2 linked regions of the Homo sapiens genome follow. The protein of the gene in region 2 interacts with the protein of the main gene of each other region in a pairwise test. Each region holds a gene or a part of one and is shown on either strand. Other genes may lie near its edges.

The links. The genes of interacting proteins can lie anywhere in the genome.
Region 1: the proteins of PTPN21 (region 2) and CWC22 interact in binary tests that used the Homo sapiens proteins (3 or more experiments, as listed by UniProt).

The regions. Positions count from the first base shown.
Region 1 is NC_000002.12:179,951,531-179,955,308, reverse strand, and holds part of CWC22 (pre-mRNA-splicing factor CWC22 homolog), read left to right. Parts: intron 1-274; coding exon 275-352; intron 353-951; coding exon 952-1,104; intron 1,105-2,710; coding exon 2,711-2,838; intron 2,839-3,778. UniProt on the Homo sapiens protein: Required for pre-mRNA splicing as component of the spliceosome. As a component of the minor spliceosome, involved in the splicing of U12-type introns in pre-mRNAs. Promotes exon-junction complex (EJC) assembly.
Region 2 is NC_000014.9:88,544,805-88,548,582, reverse strand, and holds part of PTPN21 (tyrosine-protein phosphatase non-receptor type 21), read left to right. Parts: intron 1-3,778.

The DNA of each region.
Region 1 (3,778 bases), on a different chromosome or scaffold from region 2:
TAGATTTTCTTGATGTGGTTCATACTTATCATGAATTTAGAATTTTATAATTAATGTAATTAGCATAAATGACTGTGGAAGCTGTCAGCCAGACCCAAGCCTGTAAAAAATGATGAGTTTAACATAGATTGAGGTTTTTATTTTATTTACAAAATTTTTGAACTGTTTTAAACCCTTATTTAAAAATGCAGGCAGTCACTATCATACTGGTAAATTATACAATATTTAGTCTCTTTGTGTTTTGAATCATTAATGTATTTTTTTTCCCAAATAGAAAGAACTCTGCAACATGATACTTGATTGCTGTGCCCAACAGAGGACATACGAAAAATTTTTTGGCTTATTAGCTGGGGTGAGTTCCAGCCTCTACTGAGGGAATTCTTAAAACGAATATTGTAAATTAATGATTTCTGCTTTATGGTCTGGTCTCATTTAAAAACATATTACCACTTTTGCTAAAAGCAAATTATTCTCTCCTTCCTCAGGTTTCCCACTCTCTTCACCTTCCTCTTTTTCTACTTCATTTTTGCAGTGCTTTAACTTTGCATATCACTTTTCCAGAGCTTTTTGGAATTTTCCATGATTTGTAATGATTTCCCAATAGACGACAAGTAAATGCTGTCTTTTCAAAATCTCAAAGCAGTGTCTAAAGTCAAGTACATGTTCAGGCAGCACAATTAAAGCATGATCTAAAATATTTCTTTAAGCTCTACCCTCATGTGATCACCTACATGTATGATTTTGTTTTAACATGTAAATCTCAGGTAATTAGAAACCATATATATTAACTTCTTTTTTGAGCATCATATGGCACAAAAGGATTTAGTGATATATGCTCTTTGAAAATATAAAGCATATTAATAAAGTTTTGATTCAGTAAATTTAGGATTTAATATGCTCATAATTGTATTAACATTCAATTTTTAATGGTACTGATTTTTTATTTATTAGCGATTTTGCATGCTAAAGAAAGAGTACATGGAATCCTTTGAAGGTATATTCAAAGAACAGTATGATACCATCCATCGCTTGGAAACAAACAAGTTGCGAAATGTTGCTAAGATGTTTGCTCACCTTTTATACACTGATTCACTTCCATGGAGTGTAAGTACATGGGTCAATATTTATACTTCCTTCCTAATTCCCTGTTCTCAAATAGATTTTCGTATAAGCTAGCCATATTTATCCTATTATGAAATGTGCTTTAAAATGAAATGTGTAGAACTGCTGTCTTTGAGATTATCATCATGTTATAAGGAATCAGAAAGCTAGGTAAATAATATACAAGAAATACTATCTTTGTATTATATTAACAGTCCAAACATGCCAGTGTTTCGATAGTGATGGCTAGGAGTGTCTTCAGGAAAAGTACTGCAGATTTTCATCTTCTCTGTGTACACACACGTGCATGCACACTCACATCCACATATGCCACTATTTTGGTGGTAAATGTGTCTCTGAATTACTCTCCCTTGATTCCTGAGGGAATAACTCTCCATGGTTCTCTTGTTGGGTTTGAGAAAAAATGATTGTTCTAGAAGGATGTGTTCTTTTTAGCAGACATTGAAGTTGGGTAAGCTATAGAGAGGATATCCTATAGTCATAGAACAAAGAAAGATATATTCTTGATAGGGAAATGTGCACTGGATTGAAATTTGAAAGGCGTTCATTAAGCTGGCATTGATTTTACAGCTGTTTTTCAACCAGTGTTAGTTAGCCACCACTTATATACTGAGTCATTGAGAGAGGTGCTGTGTATTCAGAGTGAATTATACATGGCCCCTCCTTTCAAGAGGGTTACAGTATAAGACCAGAGGTAAGATATGCCCATAGCAATGATACAAAATAAAAAGTCTTAGATTCTAAGAAAAGCAAAATTACTAAAGGAATTTGAAAGAAAGAAAGAGAGAAGGATGAGAAATTACATCCAGGAGGAAAGAACAGGATTATCTTGTAGAATGCCATCCTACTAATGGTAGAATGAGGCAATATCTCAAACTTAAAAACATTGGTTAGATTTTTATAGTACTTTAAGTACCAAGTATGTCCAGCTACATTAATAGGCATTCGTAATCTAACCTAGGAGACTAATTGTAATAATTTTTGACTTCTTTTTTCCCCTCTTTGAGAAAATGAAGTGAGAATTTTAAACAATTAACCAACTAATGGGCCCCCCAAACACATAACCCATAAAAACTAGAGGTTACTTTTATTTTTATTTTCCCTAAAAATATTTCTTTAGGCATTTCAGTTTTTAAGCCACAGTCTTAATATTCAGAATAAACCATTATACTTTCTGTCTTTTTTTAAATCGTATGTTATGTGTGCTAAACAAAATTGTAGCCTAATGTGCTAAGTGGCATTTTGCCCCAAACCTTCATATACACCACATTTTGATGAGTAAGGTTTAGGAGCTAGTAATCTTTACCATTATATGCTCAAGAGAGGATATCTTCCCTGCTATAAAAAGCACATTACTCAAAACAGAGAATGAAATCTATTTCTGTCGCATCTTAACATTTTGAAAGTTAGTATAGAGAAGTAGTTTTAAACTTTATGTCAGCATAAGGGGAGATATTCAGAGATAACTCTGGTTGAAGATGGGAATAAATAGTAATTTTGAGAAACACTTAAACCTACAAATATTGGTCACTATGTCCTGTCTTTTATAAATTAAAATATACTTGTCTTTTTTTATTTTAATTTTCAGGTTCTTGAATGTATAAAACTGAGTGAAGAAACCACTACATCATCCAGTAGAATTTTTGTCAAAATATTTTTCCAGGAACTGTGTGAATACATGGGTCTTCCTAAACTTAATGCAAGATTAAAGGATGAGTAAGTTTGCCATTAAGCACTTTTTATTCTTATTGACCTCTGGTTTTCTCCCATTGTAGCAGACATAAGCCCATCCGAGACTGTAAAAACAAGAGCTAAGCCCCCTGAGACTTTCTTCATCCATTAATCACTGTGAATTTCATGTTATGTCACACAGGACAACATGCAACTTTTAGTGGTGGTTTTTAGTTTAAGTGGAGTTCAAATTAATGCCTTTTTAGATTTTCTTAGAAAATACAGAATTGTTTTTGTATGCTCACTTGAATTCTCCAGTGATATTTATAATTTTATTTTCTTTTTACCCTAATTTTAAGCCTTAGAATGATAACTAATATTATCAGTGGACAGTTTTGAGTATATATTTCATCTATTAATAATTGTTCAAAATATTACATAGAACTAGAGCCTTATTTCAGGATTATTATGTAATCCCCTCTCACCTTTCTTATTTCCTGTTTGTTCAGATTGCCACTTAGGTTGACTTCTACTCCATTGACACTACTGAAATCATCCTTTCAGATTTCTCAGTGACCACCTGCCATATTCAGTTGTCTTTCTCAGGCTGCATGCCTCTTCACTTCTCTGCCTCACTTATGCAGTTGACTACCTACTCACTGTGGCTCCATACTTTCTTCTCACTTCCTCTCTCAGTCTTCTCCTCAGCCTGCCTCTTCAGTGTTCCTGGGTTCCACACACTGTCTCTGGACTATTCCATCCACTTCTCTTGGCTTCATATACTTACTTATTTGGTCCCTGTCTACTTGACCAGGCTCGTCTTCTCTCTCTTCAGCAAGCTGCACTCCAGCCATACCAACACTGCCAAGCTTGTTAAACATATCTGGCTCTTTCATGCTTCCTTACCTCAGTTTCCACTGCTGGCATTCTCCTGTCTTATTGATCTATCTGGGAAACTCTTAATCATTCTTCTTATATTGTACCT
Region 2 (3,778 bases):
TGTTGTTGCCAGTAAGAAAACAGGCATGATGCATGCTGTGATAAGGGAAGTAGAGGGTGTGCTATAGGCCAGAGGGAGGTGCAGCAAAGGGAAGGCTGCTCAGGGAATTTGATTCTGAGCTGTGACCTGAGGATGGGGCAAGGGAGTCCTATCAAGGGCTGGAGGAGTTCCAACAAAGAGAACTGCACAGGACCAAAGACGCAGAGGAAGCTGGTCTGCCTGAAGCCTGAAGTGCGTGGAGGAAAGGCCGACTGTAAGGGCCACACAATGAGGATTTTTTGTTAAAGGATTTAGATTTATCCTGAGGGTAGTGGGGAAGTTAATGAAGGGTGTAAACAGGTGTGGTACGATTGTTTCTGTGAAGAGTGAGCCCTTTGGAGAATGATTTGAGGGGAGTGGTTCAGGTACAGATGGTAGCCACCTGGAGTTGGATAGGGTTGGAGAGAGGTGGTTGGAATCTGGATCAGGACCTACCGAGTAATAGAGAAGGGTTAGCATGGGTCCTGGTTGATATTCAGGTTTTCAGTAGATGGTGGGGCTATAACAGAGAGGAAATGTGAAAGGAAGTGCAGATCTATTAGGGGCAAGGAGGAGCGTGTGGTGAGTTCAGTTTTAGAAATACTGAGTTTGAGGTGCCAGTTGGAGGTTTTGAATAGACAGATGGATCTGCTGATCTGGAGTTCAGGCATGAGATCCAGGTTAGAGGGAAGATATTGGGAAGTATCAGCCTAAGTGAGTTCATTAAAGCCAGAAGATGGTATGAGGCTCTCCAGGGGAGAAAAAGAGGACATCGCAGACCCCTCATGGTAGATTAGAGGAGGGGAAAGTGTTGGAAGGAAACTGAGATGAAACTGCCGAAGAAGAAGAAAGAAAACCAGAACAGCAGGCCTCAGTAACCAGTCCCTGCTTACTTGCATTTATTCTTTTTTAGGGATGAGGTCTCACTCCATCACCCAGGCTGGAGTACAGTGGCACCGTCATAGCTCAATGCATCCTCAAACACCTAGGCTCAAGTGATCCTTTTGCCTTAGCCTGCCAAGAGCTGGGACTACAGGTACACTCCACCACACCCAGCTAATTTTTTTTTTAACTTGTGTTTTTGAGATGGAGTCTTGCTATGTCGCCCAGGCTGGTCTGGGAGTTGTTTCCTCTAGTTATCTTCCTGCCTCAACTTTGTGAGTAGGTGGGATTACAGGCGTGTGCCACCTTGCCTGGCTTAGTGGCTTATATTCTATTTATTTATTTATTTATTTACTTTGGTTGCTTCGACTTTTTTTTTTTTTTTCCTATTATGGTTTCTTCTTCCTGTAATTTTCTTCCTCGTGCACCAGGTCTGTCTATAACGCCTAGAGAGTCAGCTTCTTGAGGAACTGTGGTTTATTTATTTTTATACCAGGTGTGGAATGTGTTCAGTAAATACAGGGAGAACTGAACCCACAGGCATTGCCTTCCTTCTGTTAATAAGTCCAGAGAAATTGCCATCCCTTGTTAGAAGTTATCAGTCTCAGGGAACAAGTAACTTTATATAGCTGTGGGTATATTTTGAGCCTGATTTTTAACAGAAGAGGAAACAGGCATGGTCCCTAGAAAATGTTTTGCCTGTGGAGAGTCTGTCCCACAATTTCCAACATAAATGTAACAGTCATGGGTAGAAAGTTTGTATAGCAAACTTTTTCTTTGAAAGCCCCAGAAGCTCTGCTCTGTAGCATATAAACAGATGGCTCAGGCATCAGGCCTAATCTTAACAAATGACTGTTCAGAAATAATCTGAGTGGGGTCACACCTGTTTCTAGTTTGTACATATAGTCTCTGTGTGATTCATACCAAGAAATATCAGTATGTTGGTTTCTTGCACTGTTCTCCCACCAAGCAAATCTGGAATTATCGCATATAGATTTGGGTGGAAAACTTTGCTACTGTCCAAATATAAATGGAGGGAAAAGTCCCTCTTGCTTAATTGAATACCATTTCACTTCTATAATGACAATTTTTTTTTTTTTTTTTTTTGAGATGGAGTTTCACTCTTTTGCCCAGGCTGGAGTACAATGGCGCGATCTCGGTTCACTGCAACCTCTGCCTCCCGGGTCCAAGCGATTCTCCTGCCTTAGCCTCCCCAGTAGCTGGGATTACAGGTGCCTACCACCATGCCCGGCTAATTTTTGTATTTTTGTATTTTTTTTTTTTTTAAGTAGAGATGGGGTTTTATCATGTTGGCCAGGCTGGTCTTGAACTCCTGACCTCAGGTGATCTGTCCACCTTGGCCTCCCAAAGTGCTGGGATTACAGGAGTGAGCCAACGTGCCCGGGCCTATAATGACAGTTACAAGGGCCGCACAATAGTATAACACTATACCCAGGGGTTTCAGCTATATCAGTAGTGTTTCTTACACTGGGTATATGGGTATTTTTTTTGTTTGTATTTTTAGCTGTCATATTTTTACAAGTGTCTAAGATATTTTGTATTAAATTAAAAGCAACGTGGTTAATATACATGTATCCAATGTAGTTAACTTAGGTTGCTAACTTTCTTTTAAATTCACCATATTTGAACTACAGAAAGTAACTTCTTTTTTTTTTTTTTTTTTTTTATTTGAGACAGAGTCTCGCTCTATCGCCCAGGCTGGAGTGCAGTGGCGCGATCTCGGCTCACTGCAACCTCCGTCTCCCAGGTTCATGCCATTCTCCTGTCTCAGTCTCCCAGGTTCATGCCATTCTTCTGTCTCAGCCTCCCAAGTAACTGGGACTATAGGCGCATGCCACCACGCCCGGCTAATTTTGTATTTTTAGTAGAGATGGGGTTTCACCGTGTTAGCCAGGATGGTCTCGATCTCCTGACCTCATGATCCGTCTGCCTCGGTCTCCCAAAGTGCTGGGATTACAGGCGTGAGCCAAAGTAACTTTTAAAAATGGGAAAATGAATTATTCCCTTAGGAAAATATTGCTGTTCGTTATAGCAGTAGTTTCTCAAAGCTGTTGAAATTCCCTGCCTATCATTCTTCTGAGTTTCAAAACATTTTTTCAAGAGAGGCTGTGAGTCCTTGTGGAATTTAAGGGGAGCTAGAAAATTTTCTCCAATTTTAAAAGCATATGCTGTAGAGGCTTGAAGGAGGTGGTGACACAAGTGGCCACCTGGGCATGGGCACTGCCTGGGGCATCACCTTGACGGAATCAGCACAATCCAGAGTGCAAGAGTCAGGCTCAAAAATCTCATGTCATGGGAAGACCTGATTTAATCTAGCTCGCTAAAAATGATGTGTAAAACCAGGACCCAAGTTTAGTAATTTATAAGCAGTAAGGAACTGCCAAGGGTCCCAGGTATGTGTGCCCTCTGCCTAGGCCAAGATTTTCCTATAGTTAGGGCACATGGGAACCAGAACAAACCAGAAGTTTCTTGGTGAACATGGAATCAGAAGAATGTTACCTTGAAAAAGTAGATATTTTCATAAGTCGGCCAGGCGCGGTGGCTCACGCGTGTAATCCCAGCACTTTGGGAGGCCGAGGTGGGCAGATCACCTGAGGTCAGGAGTTCAAGACCAGCCTGGCCTGGCCAACATGGTGAAACCCCATCTCTACTAAAAATACAAAAAAATTACCCATGCGTGATGGTGTATGCCTGTAGTCCCAACTACTTGGGAGGCTGAGACAGGAGAATCACTTGAATCCGAGAGACAGAGGTTGCAATGAGCCGAGACTGCGCCACTGTACTCCAGCCTGGGCGACAGAGTGAGACTCTGTCTCAAAAAAAAAGAAAAGAAAAGAAAAAGTACATATTTTTATAA